5 linked regions of the Homo sapiens genome follow. The protein of the gene in region 2 purifies or fractionates together with the protein of the main gene of each other region. This does not show direct contact. Each region holds a gene or a part of one and is shown on either strand. Other genes may lie near its edges. The genes, in order: PDE12, LARS2, CROT, GNPNAT1 and EEA1.

What was found.
Region 1: the proteins of LARS2 (region 2) and PDE12 purify together in Homo sapiens (co-immunoprecipitation; one large-scale study listed by IntAct). This does not show direct contact.
Region 3: the proteins of LARS2 (region 2) and CROT fractionate together in Homo sapiens (co-fractionation; one large-scale study listed by BioGRID). This does not show direct contact.
Region 4: the proteins of LARS2 (region 2) and GNPNAT1 purify together in Homo sapiens (co-immunoprecipitation; one large-scale study listed by IntAct). This does not show direct contact.
Region 5: the proteins of LARS2 (region 2) and EEA1 purify together in Homo sapiens (co-immunoprecipitation; one large-scale study listed by IntAct). This does not show direct contact.

The regions. Positions count from the first base shown.
Region 1 is NC_000003.12:57,559,143-57,563,231, reverse strand, and holds part of PDE12 (2',5'-phosphodiesterase 12 isoform 1 precursor), read right to left. Parts: intron 3,923-4,089; coding exon 3,844-3,922; coding exon of another isoform or gene 3,812-3,843; exon of another isoform or gene 3,671-3,811; coding exon 3,228-3,670; 3' UTR 1-3,227. UniProt on the Homo sapiens protein: Enzyme that cleaves 2',5'-phosphodiester bond linking adenosines of the 5'-triphosphorylated oligoadenylates, triphosphorylated oligoadenylates referred as 2-5A modulates the 2-5A system. Degrades triphosphorylated 2-5A to produce AMP and ATP.
Region 2 is NC_000003.12:45,391,448-45,395,536, reverse strand, and holds part of LARS2 (leucine--tRNA ligase, mitochondrial), read right to left. Parts: intron 3,955-4,089; 5' UTR 3,889-3,954; intron 1,105-3,888; 5' UTR 1,084-1,104; coding exon 850-1,083; intron 1-849.
Region 3 is NC_000007.14:87,344,165-87,348,717, reverse strand, and holds the start of CROT (peroxisomal carnitine O-octanoyltransferase), read right to left. Parts: upstream 3,055-4,553; 5' UTR 2,951-3,054; intron 2,379-2,950; 5' UTR 2,288-2,378; intron 1-2,287. UniProt on the Homo sapiens protein: Beta-oxidation of fatty acids. The highest activity concerns the C6 to C10 chain length substrate. Converts the end product of pristanic acid beta oxidation, 4,8-dimethylnonanoyl-CoA, to its corresponding carnitine ester.
Region 4 is NC_000014.9:52,778,151-52,782,196, forward strand, and holds part of GNPNAT1 (glucosamine 6-phosphate N-acetyltransferase), read right to left. Parts: intron 3,762-4,046; coding exon 3,634-3,761; intron 2,591-3,633; coding exon 2,529-2,590; intron 309-2,528; coding exon 161-308; 3' UTR 1-160.
Region 5 is NC_000012.12:92,849,170-92,853,258, forward strand, and holds part of EEA1 (early endosome antigen 1), read right to left. Parts: intron 3,857-4,089; coding exon 3,743-3,856; intron 3,128-3,742; coding exon 3,006-3,127; intron 2,098-3,005; coding exon 1,942-2,097; intron 1-1,941. UniProt on the Homo sapiens protein: Binds phospholipid vesicles containing phosphatidylinositol 3-phosphate and participates in endosomal trafficking.

The sequences.
Region 1 (4,089 bases), about 12 Mb from region 2:
CCACTGCACTCCAGCCTGGGTAACAGTGAGACTCTATCTCTTAAAAAAATTATGCTGAGAATATTTTCTGAGTTGTCACATGGGTCTTGTGATAAACTAATAATGCAAACTTTTATTTTTCATTATATATAAATATTGGATTTATCCCAACCAAACTAGTTTGCAGGGAACCTCTGCCTTTATTTCACGGCTGGAGAATGAGATACAAAAGATGTCAATTTCCATCGTAAGAACTTTCCACAGTAGTGTTCTTTGGACATTCTCTCCCTTGTATTAGGCTCCTCAGAAATCTATCTCCAGACTGAAACCAGCACATTCTGATGAGATCATAGCTTAGTACTCAGAAAAATCACTACTCAGTGGAATTCTTGAAATTTTGAAACAACTGATTTTAGCATACAGAATTTCAAAAAGAACATACATTACAGCCAGAAACGATTGTTTGCTCATGAATTTTGATTATTGGCAGACACATTTGCTGTAGCGGCAACTGTGCAAGAGTTCATTTTAACAGAATAATATGTTCTGAAATACTCTTTTATAATCAATATAAAATTCTAGAATGTTAATTCCTATAGCAAGAACTTGTGACATTATAAAATGTGGTTTACCATAGAAAGTCGCTAGATTTCCCATGTTTTCTTAAAATTAAATGTACTAAAAAATCCAAATGTAATAGAAAAATGCAATCACATAGGTGCTTTAAACAGACATTTCTGAATAACACTGCATTCTAACTCATGAGTACAAAGAAATGTGTATGCTATTTATACATTTTCTTAGTGTTCCCTACCTTTGGACTCCAATCATTTTAACGTATCCGTATACTGGAGATTTGATCACAGTATATGGCACTTCACAATAACATTCCATGTCCTAATAATGTGAAATGCCTGTATACAATCTGAGTATATTGTTTAGTCAGAAAACATCAAAATTAAGGATATAGGACATGGAATGTCTGTTAAGTGCTGAGTTTTTCTGACTAGAGTTTAATCTAGCCAGTGTTAATGTGGAAGCTGTATGCTTTTTTCATGGGCATGTTCGAATTTTTTCTTTCAAAATGTTTCTCAACTTTTTGATGTGACACTTTGTTTTCTCCCAAGTCACTCTAAGGGTTCTATCAACATCTTTCTTTGAAAACAGCCCAAAAACATATTTTTAAAATGAAAAAAAAATTCACAAGAGAATCAAGATTTGGTTTTAATCTATTATTTACATATTTGTAAACTGCTGTTAAAATGCTCTCAAAAATGTTATTTAGGAAGGCACAATTTGGTAGCATCAATTTTTTATTTATAGTTTTTTCTAAACAAGATCCGAAGAAACTTCCACTTTAATTTTCCCCTTGGAGTACTTAAAGTACTTCAAGGTTCAATGTCAAATGCAGATAAAACCCCTTCATTTTCAAACTTACTAAGTGTTAACAATACATTTGATAGTGAGCAGAATATGAAAGTACAGATGTTATCAAAAGAGGAAATTCTTATGATACTAGGTTCAGAGATTAAAGAATTTGAAACAAGGGCTTTCATGACTGGGGAAAATCAAAGCTTTTCTTGAAGGGAGTGGGCTTTTAATACTCGAGCTATTAATTAAATGCAGAAATGAGATAACATAGTTATCCTGAACATCAAAAAAGCAACAGCTAATACAGCTAATGCATTATAAATAATGTATTTCATAACTGAATTAGTAAAGCATGGTTACCACTCTAGGCTAGACACTAATCAGTATAACCATTTGTAGTTTCTAATTTTAAAAAGTTTGGCTTCATATTTAAATTTCATTTTACTATATATATATTACATATATACACACTGTTGTCTGTAACTCAAACTATAATGCTTGTCTGTAAAAAGAAGTTTTTTATTTCAGAGATGCTTAAAAGTCCCACTACTCAACCTTTTTCCTGTTTATAAAAACCAACAATTTTGAAATTACTTCTAGTGTAGAAATGCTCAATGATTCATCCAAAATTTCAAGCCCATATCAGTAGGTAGTTTCTCATAAAGTAATGTGCTGTATTTTCTAATATCATATGGTCAAATACCCTGTTCATTTATGAACATTTTTCATGGGCAAGAGTAACTGAAGACAATGGGATCAAGTTGAATATGTTGCTACTCACTTTGAATACTAAATTGTGCTTGCATCCTAAAAATTAAAATGAGCTGCAGTAAGAATTAGAATATAAACTGTGTTCATTTGTACCATACACTAAAAACTAAAATCCTAAAAATAAGAATGAAAATACCTTACTTGTTCATTGAAAAATGAAAGATGAGAAGCAATAACAATTGGTGACGATTTATTTTTATCTTTTGTTAAAGCTCTGAAATTGTAGTAAATCGCTAACTAAATTGAGGTAGAGGTAGACCCTAATGTTACTCCTTCCATGTGTCAAGTCTCTCACCTTAGGTCTCTAAGGTCACCTATAACTTAAGTCTCTCACCCTTAACTTAAATACATTTTCCCTCTTAGTACATAAGCATGATTCATTTTGGAATGTGTTGTCATGAAAGAAAAATTAAGATCATTCAAATGGTACTTTAAAAATTCTGAACTCCTAGCTAAAAAAATTCTCTTATAAAAATGTACACAAGGGCCGGGTGCGGTGGCTCACGCCTGTAATCCCAACACTTTGGGAGGCCGAGGTGGGTGGATCACCTGAGGTCAGGAGTTCAAGACCAGCCTGGCCAACGTGGCGAAACCCCATTTCTACTAAAAATACAAAAATTAGCCAGACATGTTGGCGCACGCCTGTAATCCCAGCTACTCGGGAAGCTGAGGCAGGAGAATCGCTTAAACCCAGGGGGCGGAGGTTGCAGTGAGCCGAGATTGTGCCATTGCACTCCAGCCTGGGCAACAAGAGTGAAACTCCATCTCAAAAAAACAAAAACAAAAACAAAAACAAACAAACAAAAAACACGCTAATTCAATCTTCCTTTTCTGAGAGTCTCAATTTGGAGAAAAATAATTCAATTTTCTATTTTGCTAGTAAGAAATATATTTGTTTCTCCTCCAATTGTAGAGGAAAACAAGGAAAGAGAAGATGTATGATGCAAACATCAACAGTTTCATAACGAAGACATCAGGAACATAACTAGGAGGGCTGAACATTTTACCATTCCTCCTTGAAGTTTACATATAAGCTTTGATTCATATTAAATTTTCTGCTAAAATAACTACTTCCTTTTCAGACTTCAATTCCATTAAACACACATCTATTTCCATTTTAAATCACATACAAGTGCTATGTGATCAGAGGGATGGGAAACACTAGGTAAGGCCTGGTGGGTGGTAACTTCTTCATGACTAGGTAATGGAATCACCTGTTCAACCTCTAAAGCATTTAAGTCAATGAAAATGTAATCTAGACATCCATGAAAGCCACCAACATAATTTGTGTAAGCAGGTTCACCACAAGCACTTTTCAGCTTGAAGAAATGTGTAAGAGACATATTGCATCTTTCCTCCTCCCCATTGGAAGCCCAGTCTTCATGATCCTCTGGAATGCTGCCATTGATGACAAAATGATACATTCCTGTTGATGGTGTACTATTAAAGTCCCCACAAAATATAACTGGTATGCCAGGATACAGATCACATGAAACATGTCTTATGTGAGCCAAGGCTACTGCCATTTGAATGAGGCGAATATACCCACCTATGAATATAAAAAACATTAATGTAAGTATTTTTTAAAGTTGTCTTTAAGTTAAAAAAGAAAAACTACACAAATTACAGTCTCTGGGTGACGTTCAAGATATGCATTTGTGTAAAACACTTTAAACAACTTTAAGCGTGTTTAAGTCACTTGTGATACCAAATAAAACCTACCTTTAGGATGCCAGTAAAGATGGGTATTAGCAACACATATCCTTTTAGAAGAGTCCTTTGTAGACTGAAGAACTGAAACCTAAAATAAACGGAAAGTGCCAAGAGTTCAGTTGGCATTTGCAAATCTCCTGAATGTTTTTGTTTGTTTGTTTGTTTTTTTGAGTTTTTTCGAGACAGTCTCACTCTGTCAACCAGGCTGGAGTGCAGTAGCGCGATCTCGGCTCACTGCAAGCTCCGCCTCCCGGG
Region 2 (4,089 bases):
GATTCAAACATTTCATGTAACAATCACATCTCCCAGCTGTCATTTTGACCAGTATCAAGAGGTAAGGGTTAACACGTTCCAGACTGATTCCCAGCAAGCTGGCCTCCCAGAAAAGGAACAGAGAGCACTCTGTGGAAACTGGCTGCAGCCAAGTATTATGCTTCCACCATTAATTCAGGTAGAGTGCCGAGCTGGTGTACCTGGTGCAGAAGCCAAGGGTCCACTAACTCATGTAGCTGCTACCTCAAGGTTAGACCCTACCCCAGTTCACAACAGTGAAAGGGCTGGTGTGCCCCAAACCATGATGCTAAGGCAGCAGAACAGAGTTGGAGGCTACGATTGCCAGGGAAGGGGCAGTTACTTCTCAGAACATGTAGCCAGCGAGGAGCCCAGGTGCCTCTCCTGGAGTCTCAGATATGACCCTGCCAGATCCCTGTGTGCTGCCCCACCATGCAATGGACCACAAAGGACCCATCATCTGGTAGAGCTCCTATTTTGATGAGCTTCCCCAGTAAATGTTGCTCTAGAACACCTGGTTTGCTGCTGTCTGTCATACACCTCGTGCGCAATATTACTATGTGTGCATCCACCACATTGGAAACTCTTGTAAACACTACCTTTGTATCACCTCATTTATGCCTCCCAATCCATTTACCCCTCCCAATAGTGCAGGTGGGCACTATTATGATCACTCTCCATCTCAGATAAGAGAATTGAAGCACAGAGAAATTCAACAATTTGGTTCAAGGTCACATATTTAATATCTTATTTGAACCAGGTAGTCTAACCCCAGGGTCCAAACCTTCAACCCCTCTTCTCTACCCTCTTAGAATCTCTCAGAATACTCACATCAGCTTCTGAAATTTTGGAGGCCTGTTCTTTTATTCGTTGATGCCACCATTTCTCAACATCCTTTCTTGTCTGCAATGTATACTCTTTTGTCCACTTTCCCGTGGCACTGTAGATGCTTCTGGTACATCCGGGAATTACTCTCCTTTCCCACTTGATGACATCTGGCCCACCATTTAGCTGTCTTTTCAGAAGAGAGGCATAAAAACCCAATCTCTGCCAAACAGAAGCCATTCTTCAGAAGGTGAGAAGGCCCTGAAAAAGAGGGCAGAAAGCACACTATGAGCTGCCTCAAACCCTCCCCAGAGCTTATCTTTCCATTTGGCACAGTCCAGTGTTCTGGCCCTGTGCTTTCCTCTTACTTTTAATAATTTCTTTCCCTGAAAAGAATACTTTAGCAATTCAATTGAGCTAAACACAAACTTTTTAATAGAAAATATAAAGGGTCAGTAACCCCTAACATCAAAGATGCAAAAATCCTGTAGGAAAAAATGGAGACCATCAGCTGGCCAGCTCCTGCGCAACCTCACAAGTTGCATGGAAGGCATGGAGTGCCCTCCCTCCCCTCCCCATGGGCCAGCCCAGGGACTCTCCAGCAGGCTTCACTTCTTATGTCTTCAAGCCTCAGAAGAGCTCAAGCACATGCTGAGTTGGCGTTAGGCTCAAATATCAGAAGGGGTCTAAATACAGGCCTCCCAGGAGGGCCAGAAATTCTGAACTACTATTAGTAATTTTTATACATATTATGAGTTAAATATACCCTGTAGGCTGAACCAGAAAATAACCATTATTTAGAAGACTGTTAATTCATTTAGTTTCTCCTTCATTTACCAAATATTTATTTATTTATTTACTTACTTTTTAGAGACAGGGTCCTGCTCTTTCACTCAGGCTGGAGTGCAGTGGCATAATCATACCTCAGTGTAACCTCTGACTCCTGGGCTCAAGCGATCTACCTGCCTTAGCCTACCAAAGTGCTGGGATTACAGGCGTGAGCCACCACCAAATATTTAATGACTACCACTAGGCCCACACGTTGTTCTAAGTACTGGGAATATAGCAGTAAACACAAACAGAGTCCCTTCTTTCTTTCTCTGTTTTTTTTTCTTTTTTGAGACAGAGTCTCGCTCTATTGCCCAGGCTGAAGTGCAATGGCATGATCTTGGCTCACTGCAACCTCCACCTCCTGGGTTCAAGCAATTCTCCTGCCTCAGCCTCCTGAGTAGCTGGGATTATAGGCATGCACCAACATGCCCGGCTAATTTTCGTATTTTTAGTGGAGATGGGGTTTCACCATGTTGGCCAGGTTGGTGTCGAACTGCTGACCTCATGATCCACCCACCTTGGCCTCCCAAAGTGCTAGGATTATAGGCGTGAGCCACCACACCTGGCCCAGAGTCCCTTCTTTCGTAGCACTTATTACATACTAGCAGGGAAGCAGATAAGAAACAAACAATAAGGGAGGCAGATGAGAAACAAAAATATATAACATGTGGTCACGGTGAGTGCTATTTTTTGAAATACAACTCATAGGTTGGGGCCTACCAGGATATCCAGTTGTGATTCAAAATCCAATTTTAATGTTTCGTTGGCTTCTTCCACAGGTAAATACTGGAAATGACCTCACTGAAGAAGTTTCATGTTTTATTGCTATTCAAAGGGTTGAGGTGAGATTTTTATCAAATATTTAAGATATAAATACTAGACTAAATAGCCTAAACTTTCTCCTTCTGGCATAACAGCATTCAAGAAGTGCTACAGTGAAAAAACAGATGACAACAGATCTTTTCAAAACCAGAGAGAAATAAAGAAACCCGGCACTCTAAGCTGATGTTCTTTGATTCTCTCAAAATTCCACTTCTATCAGGATTTGGCCTGTTTCACAAAGGTACTAGAACACAAATGTTGCCAGGAAGGTCAATATAGGCTTATAACAGTGAGTTTCAAACTCACATAAGACAGCAACATAATGTGGGCATCTTACAAGTTGGTCTGCCAAAGTCATTGACATTATCAGTTCTCACTACATTAAACACCTCTTGCTTCTTCAGGGATAGAATAAAGTGCAGACTTAAAAAAAAAAATCTCTCTTAGGCCACGGGCAATGGTTCACGTCTGTAACACCAGCATTCTGGGAGGCTGAGGCAGGCGGATCACCTGAGGTCAGGAGTTCGAGACCAATCTGGCCAACATGGCAAAACCCCTTCTCTACTAAAAATACAAAAATTAGCTGGGCATGGTGACGTGCATCTGTAATCCTAGCTACTAGGGTGGCTGAGGCAGAGGAATAACTTGAACCTGGGAGGCAGAGGTTGCAGTGAGCGCCACTGCACTCCAGAGCCTGGGCGACAAAACAAGACTCCATCTCAAAAAAAAAAAAAAAAAGATAAAAAAGAAATCTCTCTATTAGTTGGGCTTGGCTATTTTAAAGTACACAGATCTGATTACAGGCATTTGAACTATATGAAATTGGTTAAATGTTAGCAATTCCATATGACTGACCTAATATACATACGCTTTGTACACTTAAGGCAATTGCATATATTTTTAGGGCTTAGGTTGCTATAATTAGAACTCCCTAATTATATAGAAGTCACAGATTTTATGGTTCTCTTGCCAAGTCAATACTTTCATACCTTTGCAAGCCAAAGAACGCCTGTTTAGCAGAGGACACATAGATGGATGCTTGCCACTTCTCTCCTAGACAGCATCCCCAAAGAACACCTAAGGAGTGTTCTGGGCTATCCTCTCAAATAGAAACAAAAGGGCACAACAAAATTATAAAATACAGTGACTTGAACTGCTCTGCCTACACTGTCTGTCTACACAACAAGAATAAGCTTTCTAAAAATGTTCACATAATACCTGGCTTACTAATGACCTCTGCTTTGCTTAAATAAACCAGTGAACTAGAGAATCCTGAAACAGATCTGGGTATTTAAAAGCATTTAAAGTTCATTTTTTTAAAAAAGCAGGAGCAGATTAGATAGTAATAGATTATTCAACAAATAAGAGAAAAACTTAAAATTAGAGCCCCACCTCAAATCATAAGCCGGAGTAAATCCCAGATAGATTAAATAATGTTTTTTATCTGTAGGTCTGGATCTGAAAAGCAGAAAAATAAAATAAAATAAATAAATTAGAATATTTTTAAAGTGTCATAAAAAAATAAAAACACAGATGGATTTTGTTTTTTTTTTTTTTGAGTCAGAGTGTCGCACTGTCGCAATGAGATCGTGC
Region 3 (4,553 bases), on a different chromosome or scaffold from region 2:
TGGCATTCTTTGCAATTTTACATATGAATATATCAAAACTCAGAAATTTAGTAACTTACCTAATGTCAAACACAGGACCCAAACCCAGATCTGTTAAGACTACAATCTTTCCCCTATACAAAACAACATGATAGAAGGTAAGGGAACCTGCAGTAAATCTTAGTGGGTAGATAGTATTTGATGTATAGAAAAGGATTATGTGTTGATATTGCATTGATATAGAAAACTTTGGAGCACAAAGTACAAAGAGGTGTGGAAGTGTCCAACTGTAGAATTAAAGATTATTATAGAATACATAAATCATATGACAAGCTGCTTTAATTGCACAGGTCGTATGAGGTCTACACAGAATGGTCTCAAGTGTTCCAAAGCAATCTTGAACATATTGACACGTGTATTAATTGCTATCAAAGAAATCTAACTCAAAATGTGAATAAGGTATACAAATGCTAAATAAAAAATGAGGTTTCTCAAAGCCTTTGTAAATTATCATATATTAATTATATTAAATAATGTAATATATTAAATGTAATTATATGTTAAAATAGCAACTGAGAAATCAAAGAACGTTAATATTGAATTTGAACTTCCTATTCTCTCAAAAACTATTTTTTAAAACTGATAGCAACGCTAAACAAAGTATTCCACTCATAGGTTACAGAATCGAACACTATCAAAAACATGGACACAGAAGAGACTATTTTCAGCTAATACCTGTTTTCCTCTGCTTTAACAGAATCCTGAGTTGTAGCTGTGCATACAGCCCCCAGTTTTATCTTTCCTACCCTCTCTTGGAGCTCAGTGTGGCTTTGTGATGACCTTGTGTGTGTCACTTCCAGGTCATGCTCCCAAAAAGGAATGCATGTGTTCTCCCTGCACTTTCCCTCCTTTTTACTACCTGCTAGGTAGTGACGAACTAAACAGCACCATGGCCTCATTTATGGAAGTCATATATGCAGGATTGCAGAATCTCCCTACTAGTCCTGGACTCCTACCTCTAGATGTATGGAAAAAAAAAAACTTCTATTTTATTCATACCATTGTATTTTGGGCTTTCTATTGTAGGGAGAAGAGCTTAGCCTGTACCACTAATATAAAGAGATAATTTGAAAATGAGAAATAATAATTAACTCAAAGTTCTTTAGCTTCTTTCTATCTATTGACTTTGGCTGCACACCATTTTGACCATCCATAAAAATGGGTTTGTACCTAATGGAAATGTAGATCTGGATCCAAGTACAGACTCTGCCACTTTCTAGCCATGTGCCCCTAGGGCAACCAACTTTAAGTGAATTTCCTTATCTTAGAGTGGTTAATCATACAATTCAATAAAGTCAGAATTTGTTTTCAATGCCTGTGAAAGCACATTATAAAAACAAAATAATCCTGCCTGAAACCACCATATTGTGGTAGGCACAATTACTATGAATGGCCCCCAAGATTCCACCCCTGCTAATCCCCAGAACCTGCGAATATGGTGAGATCATTACTCCTGTGATTGTGATATTCTCTACAGAACTGACCTTAAAATAGGGATATTATCGAATTGGAACTAATCTAATCACTTGAGTCCATAAGAGCAAAGAGCTTTCTCTGGCCAGTGGCAGACAAGTAAGACTGCTTTAATGCTTGAGAAGGATTTGTGGTGTCTTTGAAGATGCAGATGGCCTTAAAGAACTGAAAGAGGCTCAGGCTGACAAACAGTAAGGATATAGAAATGTCAGTGTGAATTCTACCAACAATCTGAAATAGCCTGGAGGTGGATTCTCCCCTAGAGCCTCCAGAAAAGAATCCAAATCTACAGAAACCTTGGTTTCGGTTTTGTGAAATTCTAAGCCAAGTACTCAGCTAAGCCCACCCAAACTTCACATTTACAGAAGCTATGAGATAATACATTTGTGTTGTTTTAATTGTTGCATTTGTGTAATTGGTTAAGGCAGCAATAGAAGACTAGTACACACATACAGAGAAGATAAGCTATTCTGTTTACCTCTGTGCCACTTAATAGACTCTAGAAAACTGGAAGCAAGAGTATTAGTTACATACCCACTATAGTGCTTAACCCACCAACCGGTACACATTAAAAATATAAATTATTGGATTCTTTCTTGAAGAGTTTTCTTGAATTCTCAACCACAAAGATTAAGTTAAATAAGATGGTTCCAATAGCACTAAGAAAATGATTATGCTAGATTTAATTAGAATTGACTTTCTGGGGGCAATTAGATATGAATTCACAGAAAGTGGAAAAGAACCACGAACAATACGTGAAGGAATTGTCACATACCAGTACACCAAGAAGATGAACTGCTTGAGACTGCCAGGAGCCTGCTGCAACAATTGTTTTGAGATCACAGGGAACTGGACTAAGTCGGTGACTGTGGGAAGAAAGAAACAAGCTTAACAAATATTTAAGAGGGAAAAAGAAATGAACAAGCTAGTGAAAGAAGGTGGAATGCAGACAAACTAGGAGTTGGGAGTTCCCAAGACAAACTTTTCGTGAATCACTGCAAACACACGCAAATAGTCCACCTGCTAGAGAGCAGGAGTAAATGATCATACAATTAAGTAGGTTTCAGACAAGTACACCTTCCATTAGACGGGTTCAAAGGGTAGAGGATACGTTTTCAGTGGCTGGGTAACAGGTTCGTCGCAGAGTGGCAAGGGGTAGAAGCAGGAGCAGAGGGCAATGAGAGCTCGGAGGCTCTTCCCACCAACCCAAGAGCAACTCTGCACTCAAGAGGCCATCAAGTGAGAGAAATCTAAGCACTACAACGGAGCAGCCCCGCGGCCCAACCTTGAGGGTACCCCTGAGACCCCAGCAGGCGAGATGCTTGATGACACTACTCCCCCACCAAATCCAGGCACCTTTGCGGTTCTGCACGACTTAACTTTCCCCCGCCCCCGAGTTGAAGGATTAGGGGAGGGAGGGAATGCTGCTTCAACGGACCTGTCCGTCCTCACCGCCCGCGCCTCGCCGCCTCTGCCGCAGCCTCAGCCTGCAGCAGCACCGGCTCGCTCCCCCTTGGGCCTCAAAGGTGCGGGAATTGGACTGAAGGCCGCTAGGGTCCCGCCCCGCATTCGCCGGGGAACAGGATTGGATAGAAAGCCGCGAGGGTCCCGCCCCTCACTTTCCGGGGAACGGGACTGGACGGACAGCTGCAAGGGTCCCGCCCCGTGCCTGACGTCGGGGGCGAGCCGGGCCTGCGCGGTAGTGGGACCCGACCCTGTCTCCAGTGGGCGTCTTGGGCCCCGGCTCTATTCTGGGCTGCGGGCCTGGGAAGGGCTCGCCGGGTGCCAAATGAGCTGTCCTAACTCTGCGGGGCTGCAGCTTCCTGCATGATGCTGGGGAGCTTGGCGCCTGACCCAGGATCTAGAAGGCACTCTGGGCAGGCCGCGCTCCGCCCACGAAGGTACCCAACCCTCTGGGATAGATGCAGGAAGCGATGGTTAAGACCCATTTTCACCCAACTTCTCGCCGCAGGTCTGGCTTACCACACGCTCCTCCCCATTCCCAGTGAGCCGCTTTTTGCAGCACCAGGCGAACACTTACACCAGTGCTTTGTAAAGGAATCTTATTGTCCACCCCGTGTCTTGGCAAAAGAACAGTGATCACACAGATTCCTACTTGGGCTCTTTCCTTTAATCTTCGGAGGCTGAGTTTGCCCAACTCAGGTATGCCGCAGCACACTACATCATCTCGGGTCTCCTTGCTCTTCTGCAGCTCTTCATTGCTACCCAAGTTATTTGAATACCCCAGGGATGCTTACCCCCGGGCCTATCTGATGTCTTTTACTGTTGTGCCAAGAAATGGAATCTTTAACCAGAGTGGAGCTACCCAAGTTCTAGAAGATCATAATGTGATTGACTTAGTTTCACAGATTAATTCATTTTGCTTTTACCTTCTGAAATAAAATATACTGTTTCATTTTTAATTTTAAATACACTGTTTCATTTTTTTGTGGAAGGAAAGACCAAATGTTTACACTGACTCTGAACTAGTTATCAAAGATAAAGATTTAGATTTCAAATTAACATGTCATGACAGGCCCCATTCCTTTGTCTGTCGTTTCTAACTCCTTTAGCAGTAAAGTTTGACCTGAAGGGAAGTGAGGCTATGTGTAACTGAATGTTCCCTTTGTGTAAATATTCATAAGTTTTCTACAGAAATATTGTGTTTGATTACAGTACAGCTTGCTGGAAGTGTTTCATAATATATGGCAGACGTACTATTCTAAGAAAAGTTCTGAATTTTGAAACATATCTAGCCAAAAAGATTTTAAATAAGGGATTAGGAATTTGTAGTTGTAATTTCTGAAGGTGTGATAAAGAACTTTTTCTTTCATATATAAGTGCGATGCTCTGGATGATGTTAAAGTTTGCTTACAAGATAAAGTTTTTAAATTGAGTAACTAAAAACTACTCAGAAACCTTCGTTGTATTTTTTTTCTCCTTTTTAGTGAGTCTTGGCATCTCTTTAAAAGTTTATGCATGTTTAATGCCTGTTGGTGCATAGAATTTAGAACCATTTCGCTTCACTCTTTTTCCTACTC
Region 4 (4,046 bases), on a different chromosome or scaffold from region 2:
CCAAAGTAATCTTCTAAATGTCATTATACTTGTAGTATTACAATGTTTTTTCAGTCCAGTATTTATGGAGGTCACTCGGCTGCAGCAACAAAATATTTCAACTCTAGGAAGAGTGTAGCCTTGTAGCATTAGCCCCTTTGACAATTTTCTTACAAGATTTTTACTTTAGAAACCTCCGACACATGTAGTTTTCTTCAGATACAGTATATCCAAACTTTTTATAGAAACCAACATTTTGTGGTAGACATTCAAGGGTAATCTTGTAACAGTTCAGTTTCTTGCTTAGCAAAGTAAGGGTTGATAATAACCTGAAATTTAAAAAGGGGGTAGGGTGAGGAGATAGCATTTATTAATAAAAATTGATTCTAGTAACAATATGAATTAATGTTATAAAACTTAAGTTTCCTTAGAAACAGGTTTAGATTATGGCTTTTCCCACTGCATTCATGTAAGTTGATAAGCATTTAAATCACCAAAGCATTTTTACTTAGAGTCAAATATACTTTTATCTAGTAATCTCCAGCTCACTAATAAACAGGACAAATACAAAACTCACCCTAAGCCCTCTTTAAAAATGAAATTTAAGGCTAGGTGCAGTGACTCATACCTGTAATCCTAGCACTCTGGGAAGCCGAGGCAGGCGATCGCTAGAGCCCAGGGGTTTGACACCAGCCTGGGAAACACGGCAAAACCCCATCTCTACAAAATATAAAAATTAGTAGGGCATGATGGCACATGCCTAAAGTCGCAGCTACTCCAGAGGCTGAGGGGGGAAGATCACCTGAGCCCAGAGAGGTCAAGGCTGCGGTGAGTAGTGATTGTGCCACTGCACTCCAGCCTGGGCAACAGAGTGAGTCTCTGTCTTGAAAAAGAAAAACGAATTTTAAGATGCATGTTAACACTAAAAACTCAACCTTTAAAAAAAAAAATGACCAAAATTATTTTGTAAAAATTCTTTATTTAAATCTATTTAAACAACTTCGGAGCAGTCGACATACCCACATAAAATGAGTACATAATAGCTTTGCTCTTTAATCATTTTTAAAGCTACTTTAATATTTGTGAAGGTGTGTATCAGATTAACTCAAGATTGGTCTAATTAATATGAAGTGGAAACAAAGCAAGTCTACATCTATACAAAATTTCTTAATGAATCCAAACCCAGTATTAAAGTGTGGATCTAAGTGCCTTAGAGGATAAAAACTATAAAAGATATACAAACTTGAAGGGTCTGCCCATGTTTGAACAGACTAAAAAATCCTATTTTTAAAAAAAACAAAAGACCTTGACTGAAGTATGCCTGGCTGGTTGCAGTGGCTCATGCCTGTAATTCCAGCACTTTAGGAGGCCAAGGATCACTTGAGTCCAGAAGTTCGAGACTAGCCAAAGCAACATAGCAAAACCCTATCTCTATAAAAAATTAGCTGGGTGCAGCGGCATGCACCTGTAGTCCCAGCTACTTGGGAGGCTGAGGCGAGAGGCTCACTTGAGCCCCAGAAATTCAAGGCTGCAGTGAGCTGTGATCGTACCACTGTATACTCCAGCCTGGGCAACAGAAAGAGATCCCATCTCTTAAAAAAAAAAAAAAAAAAAAAAAAAACATAAATTATATAGACTAGAACACAAGAAATCGGTCTGTTTTGTTCACTGAGGTATTCCAAATACCTAGAATAGCATCTGGTACATAAGCAGGTATTTAATATTTGTTAATTCCTTAAAACTCAGAAGAGTTAGTGTTAAAAAGCAAGTTCTTGGGCCAGGCACAGTGGCTCCCACCTGTAATCCCAGCACTTTGGGAGGCCAAGGCAGGAGCACTGTTTGAGACCAGCCTGAGCAACATGATGAGGCCCCATCTCTACAAATTTTTAAAAATTAGCCAGGTGTGGCGTGTACCTGTAGTCCCAGCTAATTGGGGGGCTGAAGAGGATTGCTTGAGCCCAGGAGGCTGAGGCTGCAGTGAGCTGAGATTGAGCCACTGCACCTCAGCCTGGGTGACAGAGCTGTCAAAAACAGACCCTGTCTCAAAAACTAAAAATTATAATAAATAAGAACTACAAGTTCTTATAAAATGGCAATAAATCAATACCACTTATTTATATTTATTTTAAATGATTTAGATATATACAGTGAAGGCTGTTTCAGTATGTATTTCTACAACTTATGAGAATGAGAGATCACAGAATATTCTGTAATAGTTGAACATTTCCTTTGTTTTTAAATATGACAGAGAAGCTGAGGCAAATCCGATTAGCCCAAAAGTTTATCTCCTACTAGGACGAGAGCATTACTATAAAAAGTTAGTAATTTAAAGATGTTACTGTCTGTAAAGAAGTATGCTTCCAATTTTCAAACTTTAAGGCAAAATATGTATAATAATACTTTATTTCTTCATGAAATTCAGTCTAAACTATTAGAGTGAGAATAAGTTCAGAATTAATGAAGCCAAAAAGAACTTCAAACAAGTATCTTGTTAAGAAACTAAATTGGAACAAAATTTATCCAGGGTTACCTTGTTTCTGCCTACTTACAATTTGCCAAGCTGCTTTCCTCTGCATTCATCACTAACAACAACATCTTCTACTCTTCCTCTCTGAAAATATTTACAATGTTTAAAGGAGTAAGCATTTACTTTTGTTTTTAGCTAAAACGAGTTGGTAAGAATTTACTGATAATAAGTAGTATATTTTGTAAACTTGAACTTAACAGAAATCAAATGCAAAAAATATTATACAGTGAAGGCTGTTTCAGTATGTATTTCTACAACTTATGAGAAGGAGAGATCATAGAATATTCTGTAATAGCTGAACATTTCCTTTGTTTTTAAATATGACAGAGAAGCTGGGGCAAATCTGATTAGCCCAAAAGTTTGTTTCCTACTAGTATGAGAGTACTACTATTAAAAGTTAATAATTTAAAGATGTTTTTACTTATTAGAGGAAATAGTATGAGTCAAGTTGTGACCTAAACTTGTTTTGGCTATGTCCCCAACCTTCCCACCCCATTGTCTTTAAACAAATATCAGGATCAACATCACCAAAATGTAACCTTTTCATGAATATATCCATCATTCTACTCCTTGCTTACTAGCAAGTTATTTTAGATATCCAAATAAAATTAATGTCTAGTACAGAAACCCCACCGAAATTCCTAAGTGTGACAGAACACATCCCAAGTGTTCCTACCTTATTCTCATTGAATTAAGGTTTTCTCTCCCTCTTTTTTTATTTACTATTTTATGTGAGTTATTGAGGGATGAAAGGGCACTACATGCATTAGATGTATCATAATTAGAACGGAATAATCTGAACCCTTTACCATGTGGAAACAAATTTATGCTAACGTGGTATATTCAGAGTTGTTTTTTTTAAAAGAGTAACATTAGGGATTTTGTGCATTACTGCTAAGTTGTTTGGTTTCTCTATGCCTATACCAAATTGATCCACCTTACAGAACAATTTTAGCATACAATTCATACTGTTATACATTTTCTTTCTTAAAGCTCTCAGAACACACTGGGAAAAGGGATTTCTAAGAGGCACTGAAAATCAATGAGAAAACAGATTTGTCTAATGGAAACTCAAAGTCAGTTGTGCTAGAAAACAGCTGTCCATTTTATTTATAAGCAGCACATACCTTAGCACAGGAATGGATGAATTTATGTTCTATAATCAGAGTTGCCGTAGCAACAATCTGTCCTAGAGTCACATCTTCTACAACTGTAACATAATAATCCCCAGATTTCTTCATATGCTCAAAAGATTCTGTGGAAATTGGATAACAAAGTGTTACATAGTAGACATTCAATTTTATGGGGAGCCAGAAAAATATTAGGATTAGCTGACTTAATTACTAAATGTTTAAAGCTGTTTTACCATAGTAATTTACCTTCCATTTCTAAAGAAAATATTACCAAGTAGTTGAAATATCAGCAATTAGTATCAATTGGAATATAACCTACACATTCAAAATATCTGCTAGCAAAATAAAGACTAATATAGCTATTTTAGATGAACAACACTTAAAATACAAGTAAATGGCTGATGTTG
Region 5 (4,089 bases), on a different chromosome or scaffold from region 2:
CATTAATTTGGTTCTGTTTTAGTCACCATAATACATTTATTTTAAAATTTCAAATAGCATTTAAGATATTTTTTAATCAAAAGGGAGTGTATTTTTTTTTAATTTGAGAAATACCAATAGGCAGACATATCTAAACAAAAATAGTTCTTACTGATACAAAGAAATAAATGACTGGGTTCACCCTGGTTTAGGTATTTTGACATTAACATCTGAATAGCACTTTTCCTCATGAGACTTCTTTGATTCAGCCTCTCCTTGATTTCACATTTGTACTTATAGATTTATCATTGTCTTCTGCTGATTAATAATACCAGTAGGACAAGAGCTTTTAACTGGCTTCAGTAAGTTCATGAACCACCTGAAATTGTTTGAAAATTTTTGGAATTAAGTGTTATTGGGCTACAAAGTGTCAATTTTGGAAAAACTGCATCCAAATATCATAAGTTAGAGAGTGTAGTGTTAGGCATCATAAGGCCTTACATGCCTATGTGTGTTATATCCACAAACTTTCACCATCTCTTCCCATAAGATAAAGAAAGATTTTTAAAAATGAATTAGACATGGGTTATCTATAATACTTATACCCCAAAGCTTGATGACATGTTATATTTGTGAATAGAGTGGCTTTTAGATCACCAGTTACAAAACTCTAAGGAAGAGATTCAAATTAAAATGTTACGGTAACAACTTTTTAAACTGAAAATATGAAAATCAGAGGTCTACTTTACATAAGGGAGCTTAAAGACTACAAATAACAGTAGTCATAACAAAATGTCTCCTATAATAAAGTAAAAAGGACAAAGGCTAGGATTTTTAAGCACATTTATGTATTATACATCTTAGAGTTTATTAAATGCTGACATATTATACAAGGGATTTACAGGCCAAAGTCATGTCATGTAAGAAATAGTAGAAGAACTGAAAATGTTTATCTTGGAAGAGAAATACTCCGAATAAATATGAGCAGTCTTCAAATACCTCATGTGGAAAGAGGAACAATTTATTCTGTGTAATTCCTAAGGACAGAACCAGAACCAGCGCATGTAAATTACAGGGAAACAAATGTCAGCTCAATAAAATAGACTTAGGAAGAAATATGCACACCGTACACCACCTAGCAAGGATTGTGGATCACTTAGCAGGGTTGGCATAAAGGGAAGTTCTGGACTGAATTTAGACTAGTTCAAGACTTCTTTCAAATTCATAATTCAAAGTCCATCAATTAGAAATAAGCTTATGGCCGGGTGCAGTGGCTCACGCCTGTAATCCCAACACTTTGGGAAGCCAAGACAGGCAGACCGTCTGAGGTCAGGAGTTCGAGACCAGCCTGGCCAACATGGTGAAGCCCCATCTCTACTAAAAATACAAAAATTAGCCAAGCGTGGTGGCAGGCACCTGTAATCCCAGCTACTTGGGAGGCTGAGGCAGAAGAATCACTTGAACCCGGGAGGTGGATGTTGCAGTGAGCTGAGATCACGCCACTGCACTCCAGCCTGGGTGACAGAGCAAGACTTTGTCTCAAAAAAAAAAAAAAAAAAAAAAAAAAAGAAATAAGCTTATTACAAAATAAGCCTTTCTTAAATATATTTTCTAAACAAAATTGGTAATATAATTGTAGAAAATGCTATCATTCTTCCTTTAAAGTCAATTACCATTTATCAACCAACCTTGAGTAAATTTAACCTTAAATATCATGTCAACAATATATATATTAAACAGAATAATAATCTTTATGCAAATATTCCTGAGTGTCTAGCTTTATAAAGCAAAACATACTGAGAGACCACATTGACTATAAACAAATATTATTCAGATCAAAAATGAAAGAAAGACAAATATTTTGATAGGCCACTCAGAAAAATCTCAAATCCTGGCTTCACTCAATAGTATACACTACACAAGCTAATATGAATCACATTTAAGTACAATGAACTTCATTACCTCTGAGCTAGCATATTGTGACTGCAATTTTTTGCATTCATCTTTGAGTTTTTCAGATTCTCGCTCACGTTCCAAGGTCATGTTATCCATTAGTGTTTGAACTTGGACCAGTTCTTTCTTTAGCACGGCAACATCTTCTATACCAGGTCTCTGAAGCTGTGAAACAACACATTTTAATTAAAAATTAAAGTGAAAAACTAAAATAATACACATTTTTAGAATCATTTCACTACAAAGGAATCAAAAGGGAAACAATCATCAATATCAATTTTTAGACTTCAAACATTGAACACTGATATCTTCTCCCACAATAAGCCACTTCCTCTTCCCATCCTACCTCATATTTAATAGTATTAATACTCAAGGTGCTGTATAGTAAATTCACAATTATCTTTACTACTTTATTTGTTTTCCTTCCCTTCACAAACTACATCTATTGGTCATAACAGTGACTTGAAAATGCTACATTCCTTCTTTTTCTATCCTACAAAACTGGTAATAAAAATGAAGGAGCAAATGAAAGCATAGAGTTTGCTCCAGGTTGGATGTAGTTAATTTATATATTTATTGAGAGCTAAATAAAGGAAAGAAAGTCAAGGACAGATCCAAGATTATTAAGTCTTGGGAGAGTATTAGAGATGTATGGTTCCAATAACAGAAATACAGTAATGAGGAAACATGATTACTTTGATTTTATACTTGTTGAATTTGAAATTAAAGCTAGAAATTCAACACAAAGTACCCTAAAAGCAGATGGATTTATAAAACAAACATGCAAGAGAAGACCAGGATCAGAGATGCAGATATGAAAACTACTAAAATGACAGATGATATTTAGATAGAAACAACAAAAATGTTAAGGTAGTAAGTTACGTATCATAACATTCCATTTTTATTTTAAAAATCATATACAGAATATATATGCAGGTGGTAGAATATAGGGAATTGCTTATTTCCTGATTTCACTCAAATTATATTTTTAAACATTTTCCTTCAGGGTATGTATTTTATTTTTAATTTAGAAAGGTATAAGAGTACATCTCAATAAATAATTCCTAAATTACCAGTTCCGTCTTCAGATCTTGAATTACAGTTGCCTCTTTGTTTAATTCTTCTGTCAGACGTGTCACTTTTTGTTCAGCAGCTTCTCGAAGACTCCTTTCTTCATCATACTTTGACTTTATATCTAATTAAAGATAGTTATATAAATATTAGTTTAAGGGGAGGACAGTTTTATAAGTTTCCATATATTACTCTGCATATCTGTATATCACTCTAATTCAAATTCACATTCCTTAGATAACCATAAATATATACAGTAAATTTATACTTCTAATTACATGAAATGAACTTAAAATTAACTGTCTACATAAATTCCACTCAACATTAAGTTAATAATTAGCATTTTAATGTACTTAATCACATATTTTACCTAAAAGCACATGTTAAAAACATATATATGTAATAGTATAACCAAGTGTTACATTTATACTACATTATTTACTTCACTTCTTTAAAATGTTCCTTTTTAATCTTTAAGCATGCCACAGAAGAAAATGTATCTTCTCTAAATTTCAAGAAGAATCTACAAAGAAACACCAGTCCTTTGAAGGCAGGCAGCTAGAGGACAAACAAAATAATTTACATAGCAACTCTGAAATCATTAAATTCCATTAATCACCATTGGAAGTCTATCACAAATGCTTTAACACACTAAAATACTATATTTATTGCTAGGGTATATAATGGCAAAAAGGTAATGAGATTGATTTATTGGCTAAAAAATTCTAACTCAATTTACCTGCAATTTCAGTAGCAAGTTGGGCTGCTTTCTGTTCAAATAAGTCTTTCATTTGCTTAATATTAAAATTTTCTGTTTGGGCTTCTTCTAATTGCTGTTCCAAAGACTGTAGTTCTACAAAAAAGTGTCGCAGTTATTCAAATACCATGTTAATTACATATGCTAAATTGTTATTACTTATATTTATTACAGTTGTAAAGATGATCAACTTAAGTTTATTATCCAATTACAAGTAGTATTTTGACACTTCAAGAAATTAAGTATATCTGCTTCACTTAAGGTACAAATCATAATTTACAAACATACACTACAAATGAAATGAATATTTAGAATCACTGCTAAATAAT